2 separate regions of the Homo sapiens genome follow, and region 2 is linked to region 1. The links come from fine-mapping of genetic effects on gene expression. A gene starts in region 1. The other region holds a variant in brackets. All regions are shown on one strand. Distances are between the middles of the regions.

Region 1 (14,650 bases):
GGGGTGGTGCCCCCACCTGTCTGAAGAAGAATCCATCACACAGGTGGTACGGGCATCTGGGGGGTTGTCTCAGCCCTGACGCCCAGTGTGCCCGAGGGTCCCGCCTGACCTTGGCGTTCCCTGCACCCCAGCTCATGAAGTGTGTGCGGCTGCCCTTGCTGAGCCGCGACTTCCTGCTGGGCCACGTGGATGCCGAGAGCCTGGTGAGGCACCACCCTGACTGCAAGGACCTCCTCATCGAGGCCCTGAAGTTCCACCTGCTGCCTGAGCAGAGGGGCGTCCTAGGCACCAGCCGCACACGTCCCCGGCGCTGCGAGGGGGCCGGGCCTGTGCTTTTTGCTGTGGGTATGGCCCCCCGCCCGTTTCCCTCTTGCCCTGTGCCTTCTACTCCCCACCAGCACAAGCCCACCCCACCTGTGCCGGTCAGGTCCTGACCTGCCCCTCCGCCCCTCCATTCAGGGGCCTCTCCAGGAGCCTGGGGTGTGGCCCAGCAGTGGGATCCACTCACGAGTCCCGTCTCCACCTGCCCTCCCCAGGCGGCGGGAGCCTGTTTGCCATCCACGGAGACTGTGAGGCCTACGACACGCGCACCGACCGCTGGCACGTGGTGGCCTCCATGTCCACGCGCCGGGCCCGGGTGGGAGTGGCTGCGGTGGGGAACCGGCTCTATGCTGTGGGCGGGTAAGCCTGGAGGCTGGACTTGGGTCGGGTCTGGCACGTGCCCGCCAGGCCAGTCTTGACCTGCAGTGGCTTAATTCCGCTAGCTATGATGGGACCTCAGACCTGGCTACCGTGGAGTCCTACGACCCCGTGACTAACACGTGGCAGCCGGAGGTGTCCATGGGCACAAGGCGAAGCTGCCTGGGTGTGGCCGCCTTGCATGGACTCCTGTACTCGGCCGGCGGCTATGACGGGGCCTCCTGCCTGAACAGGTAGTTGGGGTTGGGGCCCCAGTGGCTTTGTACAGTCCATCTGCAAGAGGCAAGTTTGTGTCACCATCACAGGGGTCGTATCTGATGGGGTGTTAAAGGAGGTGATCCGCGAGGCCGTTTCACCCCAGGCCACTGCCACACTGGGCCTGAACTCTTGGCTTTGCTGCCCCAGTGCCCTTTCCTCTCTCGGGTCCTTACCCCCAGTCCAGAGGCTGGGCCCAGGTGGGTGTGCACCCAGGGTTGTTCAGGCAGCCAGGGTCCTGTGCCCACCAGCGGGCCCTGCCTGGTAGGACTTTGCGGTCTGAGTTTGACTCCTAGGGTAAGATTTCAGCCATTCCGCTGGGGAGGGCAGGTCCTGGGGCCGGGACGCCTTTCTGTCTCTGCTGAGCTGTGGCTGCGGTCCTGGTGCCCACAGTGCTGAACGCTACGACCCCCTGACCGGAACGTGGACGTCCGTCGCTGCCATGAGCACCCGGAGGCGCTATGTGCGAGTGGCCACGCTTGGTGGGTGATGGGGCCTGCCTGGGGGGCATCCCCACCTTCCCCCACCGTGGAGACCCCACTCCCAGCAGGAGTGCCACGGGTGTGTTGACTTCCGGCAGATGGGAACCTGTATGCTGTGGGCGGCTACGACAGCTCCTCACACCTGGCCACTGTGGAGAAGTATGAGCCCCAGGTGCATAGTGCACCCCTCCTGGCCACCCCCTCCCGTGCGCCGCGGGGCCCTCCTCCCTCTGTTTACCCACATCCCCCCCATTCCTGACACCCCACCCTGGAGTCGGGGCTGCGGCAGAGGAGGGATGCCAGTGGCGGGTCTGCGTCCAGCCCACGCCCTCGCCCCCAGGTGAACGTGTGGTCGCCCGTGGCGTCCATGCTGAGCCGACGCAGCTCAGCGGGCGTGGCCGTGCTGGAGGGTGCCCTGTACGTGGCAGGGGGCAACGACGGCACCAGCTGCCTCAACTCGGTAGAGAGATACAGTCCAAAGGCTGGAGCCTGGGAAAGCGTGGCGCCCATGAATATCCGCAGGTCCGCAGTGGGGCTGCGGGGAGGGGGGCGCGGGTCCGCAGTGGGGCTGTGGGAGGGGTCCGCGCGTCCGCAGTGGGGATGTGCTGCGGGGAGGGGGGCGCGGGTCCGCAGTGGGGATGTGCTGCCGGGAGGGGGGCGCGGGTCCGCAGTGGGGATGTGCTGCCGGGAGGGGGGCGCGGGTCCGCAGTGGGGATGTGCTGCCGGGAGGGGGGCGCGGGTCCGCAGTGGGGATGTGCTGCCGGGAGGGGGGCGCGGGTCCGCAGTGGGGATGTGCTGCCGGGAGGGGGGCGCGGGTCCGCAGTGGGGATGTGCTGTGAGAAGGGAGTTCTCCCAACCTCAGCGAGCATGTCCCGCCACCACCCCTTTTTGTGGTGCAGCCCCTCCCCCCGCATCCCTTCCTGCAGCCAGGGGCTCACCCCGCCTTCCCCCCAGGAGCACGCATGACCTGGTGGCCATGGACGGATGGTTGTACGCCGTGGGGGGTAACGACGGTAGCTCCAGCCTCAACTCCATCGAGAAGTACAACCCGAGGACCAACAAGTGGGTGGCCGCATCCTGCATGTTCACCCGGCGCAGCAGTGTGGGTGTGGCGGTGCTGGAGCTGCTCAATTTCCCGCCGCCATCCTCCCCGACGCTGTCCGTGTCCTCCACCAGCCTCTGACCCACCTACCACCAGAGGCCTGCAGCCTCCCACATGCCTTAAGGGGACCGTGGCCCCCACCAGGGACGTCCTGCGCCATCCGTTCACGTCTCTGCATCCATTCCTTCATGTCTTTATTTAGTTGTTTATTTATTTAGTTATTTATCTTATTTATTGAGGGGTGAGGAGTGCCACGGCTGCCCGTTTACACCTTTAGCGTCTGGTCCTCCTGCGTGTCCTCCCCTCCACTGCCTGCATGGGGGGCGCGGGGAGTGACCAGGCGGGGGCCTCACCGCCCCAGGGCCGTTGCCTGCTCAGACCTTGCAGGCTGTGGAGCAAGAGGCCCTGGGTCTCTCCAAGCAGCTGCAGACCCCAGCTCGAATTTTGCACATGGCGGGGTCCCGGGAAGGGTGGGGAGCAGTTGTCCTTCCTGTCGTCGTCTGCCGTGTGCCATCTTTCCTGGATCTTGTAGTGGGTGCACACGCGTGCACTGGGACCCCACACAGCAATACGAGTCCAACTTAATAAACACATTTCTGGGGTTCCTCAGGCTGAGCATCTCTCTCTGGCATGTGGGGCAGCTGCGCAACTTTGGGTCCTGTCTGGGGTCCAGGGTGAGGGGTGTGGGGGGGTGCCCTGAGATGCGCAGGCATCTGGGAGCTGCAAGGCAGAGCTGTGCGTCCAGGGAGGGTGGGGGCCGTGCAGTTCCTGTGGACCAGCGTCCCAGTGTGGGTGGCGTTTGCCTGGGCTGGGTACTGAGGCCGAGGTCCCCGCCACATCGTGGGCTCTGGGGTTAGGGCTGGGGAGGACAGCCTTGCCCCCGAGTGCGCTGACTGTCTTGGCCGTCTAGGGGGCATGTGGCCTCCCTGAGTCCCCTTAAGCCTTGGGGACCCTGACTCGGGTCTGTGGCGAGGGGGCCCAGGCAGGAGGGGAGGCTGCGGTGGCTTTGGCCGCCGTCTCCTGTGCTGGAACTCCTGCCTCAGCCCTCCCTGCAGTCACCGGTGACTCGGGCCGGCCAGAGTTTAGATGGAAACAGGATGTGTGGGCACGTTGTCCCGGGGGGCCTGGAAGGTCGCCCCGGGTTCACCAAGCCGGAGCACAAGCAGGTGGGGTACCTCTGCACACTGGAGGCCTCGTCTGGGCCAGAGGGGTGCTTGCCCCAAGGCTGGCCTCTCGAGTGGAGGGCCCAGGGCAGAGACCTGCACGGCTCAGGTAGGGGCCAGGCCTCTTCCAGAAAGGCTCCACCCTCGCCCAGGCCCTGGTGCCGGGCGGGACGTCCCGGAGCCCCGCCTGCCCGCGGGAGGCGGGGGCAGGAGGCTGTGGACAGGGACCCAGACTTGCCGACCTGTACGACTCTGGCCATGGGGAACAGCCACTGTGTCCCTCAGGCCCCCAGGAGGCTCCGGGCCTCCTTCTCCAGAAAGCCCTCGCTGAAGGGAAACAGGTGAGCGGGGCGTGGGTGCGGCCACCTGGGCGCAGGGCTCCCCCACCCGCTCCGGGGCCAAGCCACGAGACCCCTTGCCTTGTCCCCAGAGAGGACAGCGCGCGGATGTCGGCCGGCCTGCCGGGCCCCGAGGCTGCTCGAAGCGGGGACGCCGCCGCCAACAAGCTCTTCCACTACATCCCGGGCACGGTGAGCGCGGCGTGCACGGTGGCTGTGGTCTGGGAGCGTGGCTCTGCCCGCGCGTGTGTGCCGTGTGTCCGTGCAGCTCAGGGTCTTCCCCTCGCCCCCGGGGCGTTCAGACCCCGGTAGGTGAGGAGCCGACGCTGACTGCCCCGCCCTGGGGAGCTCATCCGGCCGAAAGTCTGAGCGGAGAGCGAAACCGCGACGCAGGACTGAGTCAGTCGGGAGAGAGCTGGGCGGGGCGGGCCGCGGGCGGGGCCTCCCGGGACCTCCTCCCGCAGGGGACCAGCGCACGTGTCTCTGTCGCTGCAGTGGGGCTTGGGGTCGTGCCGGCAGGTAGTGTCACTTGAGAGTAAGGGGCCTCAGATGAGCAGCGAGCCAGCCGGTCACCTACACCGGCCTTTCTCCCTGGGTGTCCCGCAGGAAGTTGCCGCTGGGTATGGCCGCCTGGTCCACAGCAATCCCTCTGTGCACGCGCCGGCCTCCTCCCAGCTTGCCAAGGCCATGCAGCAAGGAGGTGTCTCCCAAGCACACACTAGGCCACCTCTCCGTCAAAGGAGCAGAAGACCACCCCCATGCCCACCCCCCCCCCAGCCCCTGTGGGACTAAGGGTCTTCACAGGGTAGATCCCAGCCCCTTTCAGATGTGTCTGGTGCTGGGATGAGGGAACAGGACCAGGAACCTGGGCTTCAGGGCAGACAGGAACCCCCACTGCACCCCCGTCAGGCAGCCTGGATGGGTGGGCTCCGCTATGTGCAGGCCCTAGGAGCATCTGCGGGAGAGGACGCCTGCCCTGCACTCCTGGGTCCAGCAGCTGGCATGGCCGTGCAGACCCCTTTGCCAACATGCCCCCGCCAGGCAGGAAGCTCGTGCCATACCCTCTCCTGACCTCCAGAGTTTCAGGGCTCCCTGCAGACAAGTACTGGTTTCGGAAACCACGCTGCCTCAGAGGAGTGGGCAGGGAGAGGGAGCCGGGCTGGGTTAGGGGTGGGGTCCCTGTGGCTGCATCTCAGACACCACTCCCTCTGTCCAGGCCCAGGACATGCAGTGTGACCCTGGGGGGTCCTATGAGGTGTGGTGGGTGGCCGTAGTGGTCCTCCCTTGCCAGGACATGGTAGCCACAGAGGCAACAACCTGCTGAACCTCGGGAAATGGGGCTGGGGGAGGAGCTCTGGGCCAGTCCTAGAGCCAGTGCTCCGCGGCCCTGTACCTGGGCTCTGCACCCAGTGCTGTGAGCTGGCTCTACTACGGCTCCAAGCTGAGTCCTCCCCGGGGCCCCGAGGCTGAGCTGCGCTGCAGGGCCAGCTGTGTGGCCCTTCCTGGTCTGTGGCCTATTTTTCATGGGTGCCAACCCGGCATCAGTTCCCACGCTGGGTGTGGGTACAGGAGGCCCCACCCAGAGGCAGAAGGCCGGGAAAGCCATGCGTCTGTCTGTTCACATTCCTGGGCCTGCTCAGGGGCAGCTAAGCTTGGCCAGGGCACAGCAGCTCTGCAGGTAGCTCTCGCCAGCTCCTAGAAGGAGGAGGACACCTTCCCACTTGGCCCTGAGCCTGTGGATCACAGAGGTCTCCAGCCCCAGGTTCACACCCGTCCCTTTTCTGACTTCCAACCTGGTGATCAAAGCCTGCATTTGTAGAGGACTGTGTGTGCCAGGATTGACTACATGTGGCGTGGATGTGGAGTCCCCTCCCCTCTCAGCACATGCAGTGATACCCACAGCACATCCCAGGCCCTGTCTTAGGCTCTGGGGACACAGCAGTGAACGGAATAGACAACCCCTGTTCTGCTAGTGCTCCCATTCCCACGGCAGAGACACACGACGGGACAAATCAATAGATCCAGTGAGCGGGGTCAGGTCGGTGCTAAGGAGAAAAACAGAGGGGATGAGTGCAGAGGATCAGGGAAGGCTGGAATTTTAGAAAGGCTTTCAGAAAAGGAATTCTTGGAGCAGGTAATGTCTGAGCAAAGCTGCAAAGCGGGTAAGGAGGGGGGTCAGGACTGAGCGGTCCCCAAAGCAGGAACAGAACATGCAGCAGCCAGAGAGCATGGGTCTGATGTGAGGAGACAGTGAGGCCGGGGCAGCCACAGAGACCCCTCGGGGGAGACCCCTCGGGGCACTGCCAGGACCCCGTTGTCCCCTGAGTGAGGCATACGGAGCGGCCAACACACAGAGGATCGACCCCAGAAATCTCCTCACATATTTCAGGCTGGGGGCTGGAAATGGGCAACGGTGAGGACACTGACACCGAGGAGATTGGCAAACGTTACAAATCAGGGCATCGGTGTGTTTCTGTGTCTGTTTTTTGTAGAACCAGGTGTTAAGCATTTACCATACAATACTGCAGACGTGGGAGGGTTTTGAGTGTTACCCAGACACCCCCAAATTCTTCTAACAAGTCTTCAGAGGTTGAATAACCCAAGCCATGTTACACAGCTTAGGAAAGAATGAAGATGGGTTTAATCCACTGAGTCCAGATCTCACCATCTCTACCACTAGACCAGGCAGCTCTGTGTGGGGAAGTGTGTCTGTGTGTGCGTGTGTGTGCACAAGTGTGTATGTGTGCATGTGTTTGCACGTGTATATGTGTGCACACATCTGTGTGTATATGCACAGGTGTATGTATACGTGTGTGTTGGTGTATTTGTGTGTGTGTGGAAATGTATGCATGTATGCAGTGTGCATGTGTGCATGCATGTGTGTGCATGTGTGTATAGGTGTGCATGTGTATGTGTGCACGTGTGTATGTGCACGTGTGTATGTGTATACATGTGTATGGGTGTATTTGCGTGTGGATATGTATGCATGTATGCACGTGTGTGCATATCTGTGTATGTGCAACTGTGTATGTGTGCACGTGTGTATCCATGCATATGTGTGCGTGTGTGTACATGTGTGTATAAGTGCGTATGTGTGTTCCCGTGTGTATGCATCTGTGTCTGTATTGTGTGGCATGTATGTGTCTATTGTGTGTGTATGCATGTGTGCGTGTATGCATTTATACATGTGTATGTGTGCGCATATATGGATGCATGCATGTTGCCTGCATGTGCACGTATCGGGTGTGTGTGCGTGTACGTGTACACGAATATGCATGTATGCATATATGTATGCACGTGTGTGTAAATTCTGCCGTGACTGTTTTCCTGTGGAAAGGCTGAGTGTGCAGGTTCTGTGCCTGTGGGGGGCTGTTCTTCACGTATGTGTTGTGTGGCTGTGCACAGGTTCTGTGCCTGTGGGGGGCTGTTCTTCACGTATGTGTTGTGTGGCTGTGCACAGGTTCTGTGCCTGTGGGGGGCTGTTCTTCACGTATGTGTTGTGTGGCTGTGCACAGGTTCTGTGCCTGTGGGGGGCTGTTCTTCACATATGTGTTGTGTGGCTATGCACAGGCAGACCATGCTATAGTCCTGTAGCTGTGTGGATGCGAGCGGAGGGGGTGGGGGGCCCAGGGGAGGCCCCCTCCCCTGAGCTCTACTCCTCCTAGGACATCCTGGACCTGGAGAACCAGCGAGAAAACCTGGAGCAGCCATTCCTGAGTGTGTTCAAGAAGGGGCGGCGGAGGGTGCCTGTGAGGAACCTGGGAAAAGTTGTGCATTACGCCAAGGTCCAGCTGCGGTTCCAGCACAGCCAGGTGGGGGCCGGGCTGGGTGGAGCACGCTAAGGGTGCAGCATCCCCATCAGCCTGGGGCTCCCCAGACTCCGCACTGACGACCCTGCTCCCCGCGCAGGATGTCAGCGACTGCTACCTGGAGCTATTCCCCGCCCACCTGTACTTCCAGGCCCACGGCTCGGAAGGACTCACATTTCAGGTGAGGCGGTGGGCAATGGGGTGGGGCCATGGCCGCCCTTCCCTCCATGGATCCCTGAAGCTCCTCCTACCCTGTGCCTGGCAGGGGCTGTTACCGCTGACGGAGCTGAGTGTCTGCCCGCTCGAGGGGTCCCGAGAGCACGCCTTCCAGATCACAGGTGTTTGGGATGCTTCCCGGGCCCCCAGAGGCACTCCTGACCCAGGACTTGGAGAGGGGCCTGCCCTGTGGCTGCGGAGCACGTGTGTGTATGTGTGTGCCCTCTCTGCCCTGCCCGCAGGCCCACTGCCCGCACCCCTCCTGGTGCTCTGCCCCAGCCGGGCCGAGCTGGACCGCTGGCTTTACCACCTGGAGAAGCAGACGGCCCTCCTCGGGGGGCCGCGGCGCTGCCACTCGGCACCCCCACAGGTCAGTGCCGGGGACCCCACCCCCCTCCCCACCCTGATCCTCGCAGCCGGCTCTGACCTCCTCCTCACAGGGGTCCTGCGGAGACGAACTCCCCTGGACTTTGCAGCGCCGTCTAACCCGGCTGCGGACGGCGTCAGGGCACGAACCCGGCGGCAGTGCTGTCTGTGCCTCGAGGGTCAAGCTGCAGCACCTGCCCGCACAGGTGGGTGGGAGGTGCGTGGGGCTGTAGGGGGATGGGAGGGGTGCATGGTGGTGGGCAGGGCGGTGCAACAGCAGCTCAGTTCCCTCATCGCCTGACCCCACCCCCACCCACCCAGGAGCAGTGGGACCGGCTCTTGGTCCTGTACCCAACGTCCTTGGCCATTTTCTCCGAGGAGCTGGACGGGCTTTGCTTCAAGGTGGGCCCCTCCCCACTGTGGGCCCGCCCCAGGGAGGCAGCTGTGTGGGGGTGGGAGGGGGCAGCCATGCAGGAGGAACCTGTATTTCGGGGCTTGTTGAGACAGAGCGCAGGGCCCTGCCCACCCAGCCCGCGGTCCTGGTCAGTCTGGTCTCCGCTGTGACATGGAGGAGCCCCTGCCCGCCCTGAGGTTCTCACCCTGAGGTTCTTGACCGTCACCCTGGGGCGGGCAGCATGGGGCTGAGAGCCCCTCCCGGGGACTCCCTTGTGTGTGCCTGCCCGTGAGGCGTGTGTGTGCACACGTGCGTGTGCGTGTGTCCTCCAGGGCGGGCTCCGGGAAGGGGGTGTGCACTCACGGTAACCTTCAGTCACTGAGGAACAAACACAGGGCCCTCCCCATGGTTCACCCGGCCCAACTTCTTCTCTGGGGACCCCAAGAGGCCAGTCCTGTGGCTTTGTGTGTCTGCCCCTAGCCGGCGAAGGCCCCCGCGCCAGGGTTGGTGGTAGCCCCAGGAGACATGGGACCCACTGGCCTCCCTCAGGGTGGTGGCCTCGGTGCCCAGCTCTCCAAGTACCCAGCCAAGCTCTGGAGGGCAAGAGGGTGGGATGAGGCCAGGCGGGGCCCCGGGGCTGCCCCTACAAAGGCCTGGCCCTCAATCTCTGCTCCGCAGGGGGAGCTCCCACTCCGTGCCGTCCACATCAACCTGGAGGAGAAGGAGAAGCAGATCCGCTCCTTCCTGATTGAAGGTAGGGCCCTGACCCTGGTTCTGCCTCCCGCCTGGCCAGGCCATGGTGGGGCGGGAGCCTGGGGGACGCCCGACTCTTTAGTGGGGGCGCTGAGGGGTGCACCCCCCCGCCAGCCCCTCACAGCATCTGTATGCCAGGCCCCCTCATCAACACCATCCGCGTGGTGTGCGCCAGCTACGAGGACTACGGTCACTGGCTGCTGTGCCTTCGCGCTGTCACCCACAGGGAGGGGGCCCCGCCGCTGCCTGGTGCCGAGAGCTTCCCAGGGTCGCAGGTGAGGGGTCAATAGGCCCCACAGCCCAGGTCCTGGGCAGTGGTAAAAAGGGGGCAGCAGACCGGGCGTGGTGGCGCACGCCTGTAATCCCAGCATTTTAGGAGGCTGAGGCGGGCGGATCATTTGAGGTCAGGGGTTCGAGATCAGCCTGACCGACGTGGAGAAACCCTGTCTCTATTAAAAATACAAAAAAATTAGCCGGGCATGGCGGTACATCCCTGTAACCCCAGCTACTCAGGAGGCTGAGGCAGGAGAATCGCTTGACCAGGAGGCGGAGGTTGCAGTGAGCCGAGATCGTGCCACTGTACTGCAGCCTGGGCGACAGAATAAGACTTCGTCCCAAAAAGATAAAAGGGGGGACAGCACGGTGGGTCCAGGCAGGGGCGGGTGGGGAGGGGGTCCAGCCCTCACTCACCCCCACTCACTGCCCATCCAGGTTATGGGCAGTGGCCGAGGCTCACTCTCCTCAGGCGGACAGACCAGCTGGGACTCGGGGTGCTTGGCGCCCCCCTCCACCCGCACCAGCCACTCCCTGCCTGAGTCCTCAGTGCCATCCACCGTGGGCTGCTCCTCCCAGCACACACCGGTGAGCGCTTACGGGGTGGCAGACGAAAGTGGGGCAGAAGGCTGTCGGGTAGGTGTGTGTTGGGGACCCTGGTTCCTCAGGGGAACTCAGACTGGAGGGAGCCCCTTGCAGCCTCAGAGAGTTGCACGGGAGAGGGGCCAAAGGGCTCTTCCTGGAAGGTTTGTGGTCCCCACAGGACCAGGCCAACTCTGACCGTGCCAGCATTGGCCGACGGAGGACCGAGCTGAGACGCAGTGGCAGCAGCCGGTCACCCGGGAGCAAGGCCCGGGCAGAGGGCCGCGGCCCTGTCACCCCACTGCACCTGGACCTGACCCAGGTGGGCCCAGCACACCCACACAGCCCCTGGCCTGGTTCCCACCGTTCCGCACCACTGGTCTCTGTCTCTGGGCCCAGTTGTCCTGGAGCCACCCAGAGGCCTCTTGCACAGAGAAGGGGTGGCCTAGGCTGTTTCTAGCCGAGAAGCCCATTTCTCCCACCTCTGCCCTGCAGCTGCACAGGCTGAGCCTGGAGAGCAGCCCAGATGCCCCTGACCACACTTCGGAAACATCACACTCGCCCCTCTATGCCGACCCCTACACACCACCCGCCACCTCCCACCGCAGGGTCACAGATGTCCGGGGCCTGGAGGAGGTCAGGCCCCTGCTGGGTGACAGAAAGGGTGGGAGGTGCCTGCAGCCTGAGGCTGGGGAGGTCTAGACCGTGCGTCTCACCCTGGGGTCTGGGGCTGCCCCAAGCCTGAGGTCTGTTCAGGCTCTGATGGGAGGTTGAGGTTCTGGGGGCCCCTGGCTGCCACCCAGGCCCCAGCCCTGGCTCTCCCTGCAGTTCCTCAGTGCCATGCAGAGTGCACGTGGACCCACGCCCTCGAGCCCACTCCCCTCGGTGCCTGTGTCTGTGCCTGCCTCTGACCCTCGCTCCTGCTCCTCCGGCCCCGCTGGCCCCTACTTGCTCTCCAAGAAGGGAGCCCTGCAGTCCAGAGCCGCTCAGAGACACCGGGGCTCAGCCAAGGATGGGGGGCCGCAGCCCCCAGACGCCCCTCAGCTTGTGAGTAGCAGCCCCCACGCCCGTGTGCCCCGGGCTCCGGGCTGGCCGGGGGTCTGGTGTGGGGCCTCTTGGGACTCTGAGGGAGCAGGGAGGGAAACAGGAGGACGGGGGCAGATGGAGGCCAGGGGGGCCAGTAGGGAGTTGGGGAGATGGGACTGGGGAGGGAGAGCAGGGGGACATGGGGGGCTGCACAGTGACAGGCCGCCTCCAAGCTCCCTGCCTGGGGCTGTGCCCGGCTCTCAGACTTGCGGTTTGGGGTTCCAGGTCTCCTCTGCCAGGGAAGGTTCGCCCGAACCCTGGCTGCCTCTGACAGGTGAGTAAGGATCCTGCCTCCTGAGGTGAGTGCCTGTTGCCTCCCACAGGCTGACACATCTCTGCCTTCCCTACCAGATGGTCGGTCCCCCAGGAGGAGCCGGGACCCCGGCTACGACCACCTCTGGGACGAGACTTTGTCTTCCTCCCACCAGAAGTGCCCCCAGCTTGGAGGGCCTGAGGCCAGTGGGGGGCTTGTGCAGTGGATCTGATGGCCGCGGTGAGGTGGGTTCTCAGGACCACCCTCGCCAAGCTCCAGGGTACCTGCCCCTCTAACCCACTTCAAATTACAAGTCAGGGTCTGAACCCAGTGTGATGGGGGGAGTCTCTGGGGCCCTGAGTTCAGAGCCCGTCCCTCAGCTCCTGTTCCTTGGTGCCAGCAGCTGGGGCAGGGAAGGGTGGGAGGGGCCCCATCCAAAGGATGCCCTGGCCAGCGAGGCTGGGTCACAGGTCAGGGAGGTCCTGGCCGTCCACAGGGTCGGCCCTCAGCTCAGCCCGCCAGGAGTCAGGGAGGAGACTCGCTGGGAGTGGGAGGGCAGCACGGGCGTGAAGGTCGGAGGACAGAGAAAGGTCAGCAGGGTCAGAGTATGTGAGGTCAGAGGGCATGAGGGTCACAGGTCAGCAAGGTGTGAGGAGCACAAGCCAGGGTGCCCCGAGGAGGAGGGTGGGTGGGTCCTTGTGTGGCCTGGCGCGCACCACAGGGCAGCACGGGAGACGTTGACACCACCGGACGAGAAAGAAAAAAGAGAGAAGAGAGAGAGGAGAAGAGAGAAAAGAAGAGAAGAGAGAAGAGAAGAGAAGGAAAGAGAGAGAGAGAATAAGAAAAGGAAGAAAGAAAAAGAAAAGATAGAATTTTATTGGTGCTGCATCCATGTGTTCTCTGCTCAGCAGCCAGGGTCTCCCACAGTCTTGAGGACCCCCACCCAGCACCCAGCCAGGCAGCCCCCTTCCTCTGCCACCTCGGGCCCCTCACCGACCTTCCCACCTCATCTCTGACTCCTCTTGGCTGTGGGTCCCCAGCTGCCCCACAGGAGCCCCCGGGACAACCCCAGGAGCCCAGCCCTCCATCTGAGGCCACCGAATTCTCCCTCTGCACCTGCACCCAGGGCTCCCGGGGAGGGGCTCGCGGCTCTGCCACAGACCCCCACCCTGCAGGGGCTGCTGCACTGGGGAGGGGCAGGCAGAGCCTTCGCTGTCTCAGGCCAGAGCCCGCAGAGGCCTTGGCCACAGTCCTTTGAGGATCAAGAGTGATGGGCCTTGGAGCCCTTGCCAGCCCAGCCCACCTGTGAGGAGGCTGCCCATCCCCTCTTTGAGGCCACCCTGTGTCCTCTCCCCTGCCTCTGCCCAGAGCTCCAGCCGGAGTGTCTTGCTGCTCAGACCCCTCCGAGGTCCAAGTCCTGTCCTGCCACTCAGCTCCCCCTGCACCCCAGAAGAAACGCAGGGTGCGGTTGCATTTGATTTCAGATAAACAACAACTTCTTAGTAAAATGACCTCCCCACTATTGCCTGTCTGAAATTAACCGAATGCCCTGTGTTCTCATCTGTGAATCTGGCCACCCTCCTACCCAGCCACCTGCCTGCCCTCCACCCACCCAGACTTTAGCACCTCCCTCCCAGGCGTGGGGAGTGGCCGTGGTCACTGGCTGGATCCTCAGGTGAGTCGGAGGGAGCAGCACCAGGACACGCCCCCCTCCTGGACGCGGTAGAAGAGAGGGGTCAGAGGGCCCGGGCGAGGGCGGCACCTCGTCCTGCCCTGGGCGCCTGTGGTCGTCTCCTCATCCTGCATCTCCCTGGCCCGGGCCTGGCTCCTAGGAGCTGGGGCTGGGGCTGTGGCTGCGGCGCCCTTGCCCCACCTGCCGGCGGAAGTAGCGGATGGCAGAGATGGTGCCGACGTTGGCCAGCAAGGCTGCAAGAGAAGCACAGGCTCTTCTGAGGGCCAGCCTGGCTGTCGGCACCGTCTGCCCGCAAGACCCAGCCCTCAAAGGGCGGGCAAGGTCGGTGCGGCCAGGGCCGCAGCTCAGCCTGGGGGGAGCAGGTCAGGGGTGAGCCCCGGGGCCCCCGTGCACCCCTCGTCCTGCCAGCGCCCCTCGGTCTGGCTTCTAGGCGCAGCTCCCTCTGCCCCCAGGCACCCAAACCTGTTTTCCAGGCGTCTGGGGTATGCGGATCTGACGTCCTCACAGCCCAGGTGGCAAAAGCTACAAACACCAGGCACATGTCATTCTGGCTGAAGGCAAATGATGGGACAGGCCCCCGGAGCTCCCCTAGGACAGAAGCTCACCTTCAGCCCCACGGCTGCACTCAGAGATGGCCCCGCACACGCCCGCCCCGGGAACCGCCTGCCCCCACCCCCACCAACCCCGGGAACCGCCTCCCACTCCCCCCGCCAACCCCGGGAACCGCCTCCCACTCCCCCCGCCAACCCCGGGAACCGCCTCCCACTCCCCCCGCCAACCCCGGGAACCGCCTCCCACTCCCCCCGCCAACCCCGGGAACCGCCTCCCACTCCCCCCGCCAACCCCGGGAACCGCCTCCCACTCCCCCCGCCAACCCCGGGAACCGCCTCCCACTCCCCCCGCCAACCCCGGGAACCGCCTCCCACTCCCCCCGCAACCCCGGGAACCGCCTCCCACTCCCCCCGCAACCCCGGGAACCGCCTCCCGCTCCCCCCACCAACCCCGGGAACCGCCTCCCGCTCCCCCCACCAACCCCGGGAACCGCCTCCCGCTCCCCCCGCAACCCCGGGAACCGCCTCCCGCTCCCCCCACCAACCCCGGGAACCGCCTCCCGCTCCCCCCACCAACCCCGGGAACCGCCTCCCGCTCCCCCCACCAACCCCGGGAACCGCCTCCCGCTCCCCCC
Region 2 (8,000 bases), 30 kb before region 1:
ACTCGGGTGCTGCGTGGGTGTGCACACAGTGGCGTCACGGGCCACATGCCGAGGCGTGGGCACAGCAACGTGGCACTCAGAGGTCATCCCCACGCTCACACACAGAGCTAGGCACTCCCTGTGCCCAGGCTGGGCTCCAGCCTCGCAGCTGCCCACGGGGTCAGCTTTTCCCGGTCTCGTTCTGCAGCCAGGACGGCAACCTTCCCACCCTCATATCCAGCGTCCACCGCAGCCGCCACCTCGTTATGCCCGAGCATCAGAGCCGCTGTGAATTCCAGAGAGGCAGCCTGGAGATTGGCCTGCGACCCGCCGGTGAGGAGCACAGGGGGCCTGAGGGCGGGGTCGGGGCTGTGGGGCCAGAGGACGGTGGCGTCTCCACTCAGCACCAGCAGCCTTGGCAGGCAGCCAGAGAGGCAGGAGGAGCGGCCTGTCCCCCAGGGGCTGCATGGGATGGTAATTGTGTTAATCCCAGCCAGCGGGGCAGACAGGAGGCAGAGGCGGTGGCTCCGCTGTGGCTGCCGCTGGGGTGGGCTTGGAGTAGCCGGGGCCCTGCCACCCCCTTTCCACAGGGCAGACGTAGGCGTGGCCTCAGAGGTTCAGAAACGCACACCCTGGAGGAACGCACGCACTCCCGCAGCGCACGCATGACTGGTCCCGCCTCCTAGGGCTCCTGGACGGAAGGGGTCCCCGGTCCCGCCTCCTAGGGCTCCTGGACGGAGGGGGTCCCCGGTCCCGCCTCCTAGGGCTCCTGGACGGAAGGGGTCCCCGGTCCCGCCTCCTAGGGCTCCTGGACGGAAGGGGTCCCCGGTCCCGCCTCCTAGGGCTCCTGGACGGAGGGGGTCCCCGGTCGGTCCCGCCTTCTAGGGCTCCGGGAAGGATGGGGTTCTCGGGAGGGAAGGGATCCGGCGCCTGAGGGAGGTGCTGCTGCCTGGTCACAGTTGTGGGGGGACCAGGCCCCCCTCAGAGGGCACTGCTGTAGAGAGGGGCACAGCAGAGCCTCAGCCCCAGGGCAGGCCGTGAAAGGAGGCGGGGGCGCCCCGAGGCCCTGTGGACCCCAGGCAGGGGTGTTCCCAGCAGGGCCTGCATCTCTTGGGAAGGAGGGGTGGGGGAGGCCCACCCCCATCTGTGTCCCCCATCCATGGCCCCCATCCGCGTCCTCGTGCACCTAGGAAGGCCCTTGTGGGGCTGGGTGGGGGCAGCTTCTGATGCCGCGTTGGAGACAGCTGAGAGGCGGTTGATAAAATCTAATTGCCCCATCGATCCAGCAGAGCGGAGGGAGCCCCACAATGATTGAGATATTCTGAGCCAGCAGGCCCTCCCCTGTGCCTTCACACAGGGAGACCTCCTCAGGTACACGCGTGTGCGTGTGCCGGCATGTCTGTGTCTGGGGTCCTGTGGGGTGCACGTGATGGGGGTTGCCCGGCAGCTCTCACCCATGGAGTCAGGACGTGTTCGTGCACTTCCGGGCTCACAGGCTCTACGGGGCCTCACGTGTCCTGGACCCGTGTCCAGGTCTCCCATACGCACTCCGTGTCAGGGTCTGGCCCGCTCCCCGGAGCCTCCTCTTGGAGGGGCATTCACCCTGGGGGGCGTTCACCTCTTCTCCCTTCCTGTGACCCCAGGAACCACACATCCATCCTGTTCCCAGCCCGGGCCCTCCCGCTAAGCCGCACCTCCCTGGGCCCTGGGCTGTGAGGGACTCAGAGCAGGTCCTGCATCTGCCTCTGTGAGACCCGCTGGGGTCCATGAGTGAGGAGTGAGCATGGCCTCATCGGCCTTCCTGCGGTCTCATTGCAGGCCCCCTTCCACCTGCCCCCCCCCCCACCCAGTCACCTCCCCCAGGCTAGGAGGAGGCCTTAGCCCCCCACAGAACGGAGAGGGTAGTTTCCACTGTGTACAATGGAAAAGTGATTGCCAGGAGGTGAGAGGCCTTGCTAACCCTGAGGGCATGTGCATGGTGGGCCAGGTGGCAGGTGTGGAAAAGAGCCAGGTTCCCCCAGCCTTGGCCCACCCCCTCCCAGCCCACCGAGCTCTGGCACGGGAGGCTGTGGGGGAGACGATGGCTTCTCAGGGGCCTGAGCAGTGGTGCCTGGATCCGTGTGTGGCCAGGTGCCCCCCGCCGCCCGCCGGGCCCAGCCACCCGATCTGTCACCGAGGTGGGGACCCTGGACCAGACCGTGGGACTGACCCTCTCTCTGGGGCCGGGCCTGACAGCAGCCGGGCCAGGATCAATAAGTTATTAGCACCACTCTGTCAGCTGTAATGTGGGATTGATCGGTGTGGCCGCCGCACTTCCCCAGCCTGATAAAAATGACAGATTAAGGGAATAAGAAAAAGGAATTAGGCCTGGAGCTGACGGCAGGGCTTGTGGGGGGACGGGCTTGGGAGCCCCACTGCCTAGGCCTCATGGAGGTCTTGGGTCACAGGGGAGTGGCCCCTCACTCCACCCAGCTAGAGCCCTCATGAGGATGAGGAAGGGCCAGAGTCGGAGGCACTGGCTGGCCTGGGAGACCCCCAGGGCGTGGAGTCAGGGGCTTCGGAGGAGCTCGGGGTGGGTCGGAGATGGGTACATGGATGGTGTGGTCTGGAATGGGTGCGGTCGGCAGGACCCAAGGGAGGACCTCAGGAGAGTGAGCTGGGCCTGGCCTGGGCCTCCCCTCTGCCACCTGCTGGGCTGTGTTTGGGGCTGAAGCTGGACCTGGCCTGGGCCTCCCCTCTGCCACCTGCTGGGCTGTGTTTGGGGCTAGGGCTGGGCTGGCCTCGTGGCTGAGGAGGTGGGTGAAGCTACTGGGAGGTGCACCCCAGAAGCCCAGAGCCTGGCTGGGCTGGTGGACAAGGGCATGACAGCCACGCCAGGGTGCTAGCTCAGGCAGGACTGGGCCAGAGAGGAGGACGTGGGCCTTCTGGGGGCAGGGATGGGTATGACCAAGTAGGAGGCCTGGGAGTGGAGGCGCCTCGAGGCGGCCTGGGGGGCCCACAGCCCAGTGACTCACAGAGCAGCAAGAGGTCAGGTGTGAGGTCCTTCCCGGCTTGTCTCACCCCACGCTGGCATGTGACCCTGCACAGCCCGCCCTCACTCCTGTCCAGGAGGGGAAGGTGGTGCCTGGTCAAACCAAAAGCTTTTTATTCTCCTCTAGGGGGATGAGAGGGGGGCTCGTTAACTTGCACAAGAGGCTAGATGGCGGGTGGGGCAGCTGGGTGCCTGCTGTGGATCTCTTCTGCACACACGCACCAGGGCCAGTGTCAGAGCTCCCCTGTGCCCCTGTCCCGCCACAGCCAGGCGTGATGTCCTCTGCGCTGAAGGCTGGGGCTGCCAGGGCTGGGCAAGGCCTGTACTCACCAGGACCAAGGGCCCCCTGAGAGATGGTGGGTGCGGTCCAGGCTGAGCTGGAGCAGGGGCTGGGTTCCCCTTCCATTCCTTGAGATGCAGGTGGGCACTCACTACCCTCCCGCAGGTGACCTGTTGGGCAAGAGGCTGGGCCGCTCCCCCCGTATCAGCAGCGACTGCTTTTCAGAGAAGAGGGCACGAAGCGAATCGCCTCAAGGTAAGAGCGTGGCTGGGACGAGAGACAGGTCACCAGGGGAGGGGGCAGTCCCTGAGGGTCCCCTGGACCTCGAGCAGGCACTCTAGAGGGGCGTGGTCCTCGGCAGTGCCTGGAGAAACCTCTCACCCCGGGTCCTCCCCAGCAGAGGCGCTGCTGCTGCCGCGGGAGCTGGGGCCCAGCATGGCCCCGGAGGACCATTACCGCCGGCTTGTGTCAGCACTGAGCGAGGCCAGCACCTTTGAGGACCCTCAGCGCCTCTACCACCTGGGCCTCCCCAGCCACGGTGAGGACCCACCCTGGCATGATCCCCCTCATCACCTCCCCAGCCACGGTGAGGACCCACCCTGGCATGATCTCCCCTCATCACCTCCCCAGCCACATGTACTCGGCCATTCCTGTTGCTGAGGCCCTGCTGACACCAAGGCCAGGCTGGATGCAGGTCCCTCTGCCACACGTCCTGCCCCATGCCCCCTGGGGCGGGCCACACCTCCATGTCCCCTAGGTCCCCAGGGTCATGACTAGCTCACATTTTATATAGAGAGAAATGGAGTCTGGGGTGGACCCAGGTGAGGGTGGGCAGTGGGCATGTCAGCAGCACCCCCCGAGGAGAGCAAGCTCCTGGACCCTGTGGTCTGTGAGTCGTCTATGC[AGCCAGTGGACGCCGACCT/A]GCCAGACGCCTGCCCCAGGAGCCTGGGGAGGGGCAGTGAGCAGAAAGGCCGGGCTGGGTGCAGTGGGCACTTGGCCACCAGGACTCCCCAGGTGCTGAAGAGACGCCAGCTGGAGGGGCTGCCCCTTCCCCCGGGTCGGCCCTGACCCTGTCCACCCCACCTCAGGACGTTCTCCAGGGGTCCCTCCGGGATGCACTCGGACCCCCTGCCCGCTGCACTCAGCCTCCCAGGCCCCAGCCGCCCGCCTGGCAGGGGAGCTTGGCTTTTCGGGCTAGAGGTGGGTGGGGGCGCCGGGAAAGGAGGCAGGATTCCTCACACCAGGCACCGTCCCCCAGGGCAGCTCAGGCACCAAGAGCCTGAATAATTCACCAAATGTTAATAATGTAAAAATCCTCCTTTTTAATTGCTTTCCCTGCTCTGCCTGGGGCCGCTCTGCTGGCCGCGCGGGGGAGGGGCGCCGGCCGCCGGGGAGCGCGCTGTCAATCAGGCCGCGCCGCCGCCCCCCCCCCCCGCCCCGCCGCGGAGCCGGCCGTAAATAACCCTGTAACTAACCCGGCCGCTAGCGCGGGGGCGCTGGGCCCCGCTGGGATCGATGCGGGCGGCCGCGCCGGCTGGGCTCTGCGGGCTGGCACCCGGCCCGGGGCGGGACCCACCTCCGCTTTCGGGTAATTAATTTATAAACAGAGGCGGCGGTGGAGCTGGCGGAGCCTGCATAGTGGGGGCTGCGGGGACTCGGGAGGCCCGGGCGGGAGGGAGAGGCCGAGAGACCTGGGACGCGGCGCCTTAGACGCGGGCGCTGCGTGCGCATTGGGGCGAGTGTGGCCACGCGGGACAGTGACCCTGCGCAGCCGGGACTGGGCGACCCCTGTGCTAGTGTGGCGTGCGTGCGCGGGCGCTGCCTTGCCTTTGTGACAAGCTTTGGCCAGCCGCGTCTACTATGGGGACCTCAGATTTTCTTGCCTCCCACCGAAGAGGGGGTCCCCTGGGCGGTCAGCCCCTGGCTGGCACTTCTGGACTCTCTCGCTGCCCCGCAGGCTCTGTGGCCTCGGGACGTCTGCACAGCCCCCTCCCCGCAAGGCTCAGCCGCCTCTCAGGCCGGAAGCCTCCAGGCACCCGGCTCCCCTTCGGGGAAGAGCTTTTCCCGACACTTCCTCGCCCAGCATCTTGTCTGCCGTCTCGGCCCTGTGGCCGCCCATCCTCCTGCCCCGTGCCCGAGACCAGCCCAGGGGCCGAGCACGGCCGAGTGGTGTGGTCAGTTCCCCACCTCAGTGTTCTACGCCAGGACGCGGGCTGGGGAGGATGAGGGCGCATAGCCGGGGGGATCACTGCTGTTGTCCCCCACCCAGATCTCCTGAGGGTCCGGCAGGAGGTGGCGGCTGCAGCTCTGAGGGGCCCCAGTGGCCTGGAAGCCCACCTGCCCTCCTCCACGGCAGGTCAGCGTCGGAAGCAGGGCCTGGCTCAGCACCGGGAGGGCGCCGCCCCAGCTGCCGCCCCGTCCTTCTCGGAGAGGTACTGGGGTGGCTGCCGTTCTCTGCTTGTTTCTGGGGTGCCGCCCGCACCCCCGCGCTCTCAGCCACCAGCACGCGCCCCGAGAGTGCCAAGCACTGTGTTCAGCTCTAGGTTCGGGTCCGGGCAGAGCGTTTCGGGGGTGACACCGATCTGGGCTGCAGTGTTGAGGGCGCCACTGGGGTGCGTGAGGGAGGCTGAGGCCCATCAGGGGGTTCCCTGGAGGAGAAGCCAGAGAAGGGGAGAGCTCCAAGTCTGGAACCCCGGGGTCAGTCGGGAGGGGTCGGCCAGAGGACTCAGAGCTGGAGGCGGAGGGGGGGTCCTGGCTGGCGCTCAAATGTAGACGCCGGCGCCGGATCTGTTCCCGGCACAGACAAGGCCTCCGGCACAGACCCGGGTTTCTCGGGTCCAGGACACGAGGCGGGGCGGGGCGCCTGGAGAAGGGAGGGGCCGCCTGAGGCCCGAGTCCCTGCCCGGCCGCTGAGCCCGGCGTCTGCAGCTGCCTCCACCGCCGCCCGGATTGCGGCTAATGACGCCCCCGCTTCCCCCGCCGCTCGGGTCCGCAGGGGAGGGGAGCAGGCGGGGCCGGCGCCCCGCGCAGTAATTACCGCTGCAGCCGTCGCCGCCCGCCGGGTCAGCGCCTCCGCGCCGCCGCCGAGATTAATTGGCGCCGCCGGCGGGGGCGGGGATGGCGCGCGACCTGGGGCCGTAACGAGCTGCGCATCGACCGCCCGCGGGGCCGGCAATTAGCGGAGGCGGCGGGGGAGGGGCGCCGGGGCCTTTACGGGAACGGGGGCGGGGGGGACGCCGCTCATTGCGCTGCCGTCCACAGGGAGCTGCCTCAGCCGCCCCCCTTGCTGTCGCCGCAGAATGCCCCTCACGTCGCCCTGGGCCCCCATCTCAGGCCCCCCTTCCTGGGGGTGCCCTCGGCTCTGTGCCAGACCCCAGGTGAGGAGGCGGGTGCGCATCCCCTGGGAGCCCGCGTGGAGGCTCGCGGACCCGGCCCTGCCCCTGTCGGAGCCGAGACGGACCGGGTAGGGGATTGCAAAGGGCCGGCTCGGACCGCCTCGGACCCCCCGACCCCGCGTTGTCCCCCTCCCCACCAGGCTACGGCTTCCTGCCCCCCGCGCAGGCGGAGATGTTCGCCTGGCAGCAGGAGCTCCTGCGGAAGCAGAACCTGGCCCGGTAGGTGCGGGGAGGCGGGCGGGGCCGCGCGGCCCGGGAGGCGGCTGACCCGCGTCTGCCCCCGGCCCAGGCTGGAGCTGCCCGCCGACCTCCTGCGGCAGAAGGAGCTGGAGAGCGCGCGCCCACAGCTGCTGGCGCCCGAGACCGCCCTGCGCCCCAACGACGGCGCCGAGGAGCTGCAGCGGCGCGGGGCCCTGCTGGTGCTGAACCACGGCGCGGCGCCACTGCTGGCCCTGCCCCCCCAGGGGCCCCCGGGCTCCGGACCCCCCACCCCGTCCCGGGACTCTGCCCGGCGAGCCCCCCGGAAGGGGGGTCCCGGCCCTGCCTCAGCGCGGCCCAGCGAGTCCAAGGAGATGACGGGGGCTAGGCTCTGGGCACAAGATGGCTCGGAAGACGAGCCCCCCAAAGACTCGGACGGAGAGGACCCCGAGACGGCAGCTGTTGGGTGCAGGGGGCCCACTCCGGGCCAAGCTCCAGCTGGAGGGGCCGGCGCCGAGGGGAAGGGGCTTTTCCCAGGGTCCACACTGCCCCTGGGCTTCCCTTATGCCGTCAGCCCCTACTTCCACACAGGTGGGCACCCCCACACTCTAGATCCTTCCAGAGGGCACAGGACTGGCAGGCCGCCTGTGGAAGGGTCTTGGGGGGAGGAAAAATTCCCCTTAGGCACCCATCCCCCACCTCAGCAATTGGGGCACACGACGGTCAGGAGACGGGCGGGTATGGGAAAGCCAGCCAGAGCCCTAGTAACACGCCCCACAACTCAGGCGCGGTAGGGGGACTCTCCATGGATGGGGAGGAGGCCCCAGCCCCTGAGGACGTCACCAAGTGGACCGTGGATGACGTCTGCAGCTTCGTGGGGGGCCTGTCTGGCTGTGGAGAGTACACTCGGGTAAGGGGGGGCCCCAGTTCCTGGGGCGGGGCTGGAGCTGGCTGGCAGTCACTACCTCCCTGGAAAGGATGGTGGGGTAGGGCCATTCCCCAACGCCCTCTCCCTCCCCAAAAGCAGTGCGCAGCAGGGACTGGACTGTGCACCCCACCTTTTTTTTTTTTTTTTTTTTTTGCCAGGTGTTTTCTGCCTGACACTCAAACCCAACAG

Evidence for each region. PIP is the estimated chance that this variant, and not a neighbour inherited with it, causes the effect. A credible set is the group of variants that fine-mapping cannot tell apart.
Region 2: its variant is the best candidate, but not a certain one, in a credible set for the expression of PLEKHN1 in adrenal gland (GTEx, PIP 0.76).

The regions. Positions count from the first base shown.
Region 1 is chr1:962,573-977,222 of GRCh38, forward strand. PLEKHN1 (pleckstrin homology domain containing N1) reads left to right here and starts at 3,910. Exons shown (of 16, transcript NM_032129.3): 1 at 3,910-4,042; 2 at 4,132-4,231; 3 at 7,705-7,851; 4 at 7,949-8,029; 5 at 8,114-8,186; 6 at 8,307-8,434; 7 at 8,541-8,636; 8 at 8,752-8,832; 9 at 9,503-9,578; 10 at 9,716-9,852; 11 at 10,289-10,438; 12 at 10,614-10,754; 13 at 10,928-11,068; 14 at 11,261-11,479; 2 more. The coding sequence starts at 3,960. The coding sequence ends at 12,003. KLHL17 (kelch like family member 17) reads left to right here. Exons shown (of 12, transcript NM_198317.3): 6 at 132-345; 7 at 537-681; 8 at 765-932; 9 at 1,348-1,436; 10 at 1,535-1,608; 11 at 1,777-1,958; 12 at 2,391-3,147. The coding sequence ends at 2,619. It overlaps PERM1 (PPARGC1 and ESRR induced regulator, muscle 1), which reads right to left. Exons shown (of 4, transcript NM_001394713.1): 3 at 13,927-14,052; 4 at 12,626-13,697. The coding sequence ends at 13,600. RefSeq lists silencers at 3,802-4,121, 4,392-4,551.
Region 2 is chr1:935,585-943,584 of GRCh38, forward strand. SAMD11 (sterile alpha motif domain containing 11) reads left to right here. Exons shown (of 14, transcript NM_001385641.1): 5 at 188-312; 6 at 3,456-3,545; 7 at 3,691-3,828; 8 at 5,560-5,722; 9 at 6,552-6,667; 10 at 6,826-6,904; 11 at 6,975-7,474; 12 at 7,669-7,793. Among named protein-coding and RNA genes, the nearest start is that of SAMD11, 16 kb to the left of the region's middle. RefSeq lists enhancers at 2,351-3,062, 7,632-7,771 and silencers at 2,789-2,838, 6,060-6,129, 6,200-6,399. The variant AGCCAGTGGACGCCGACCT/A (reference allele first, on the strand shown) is at 4,195.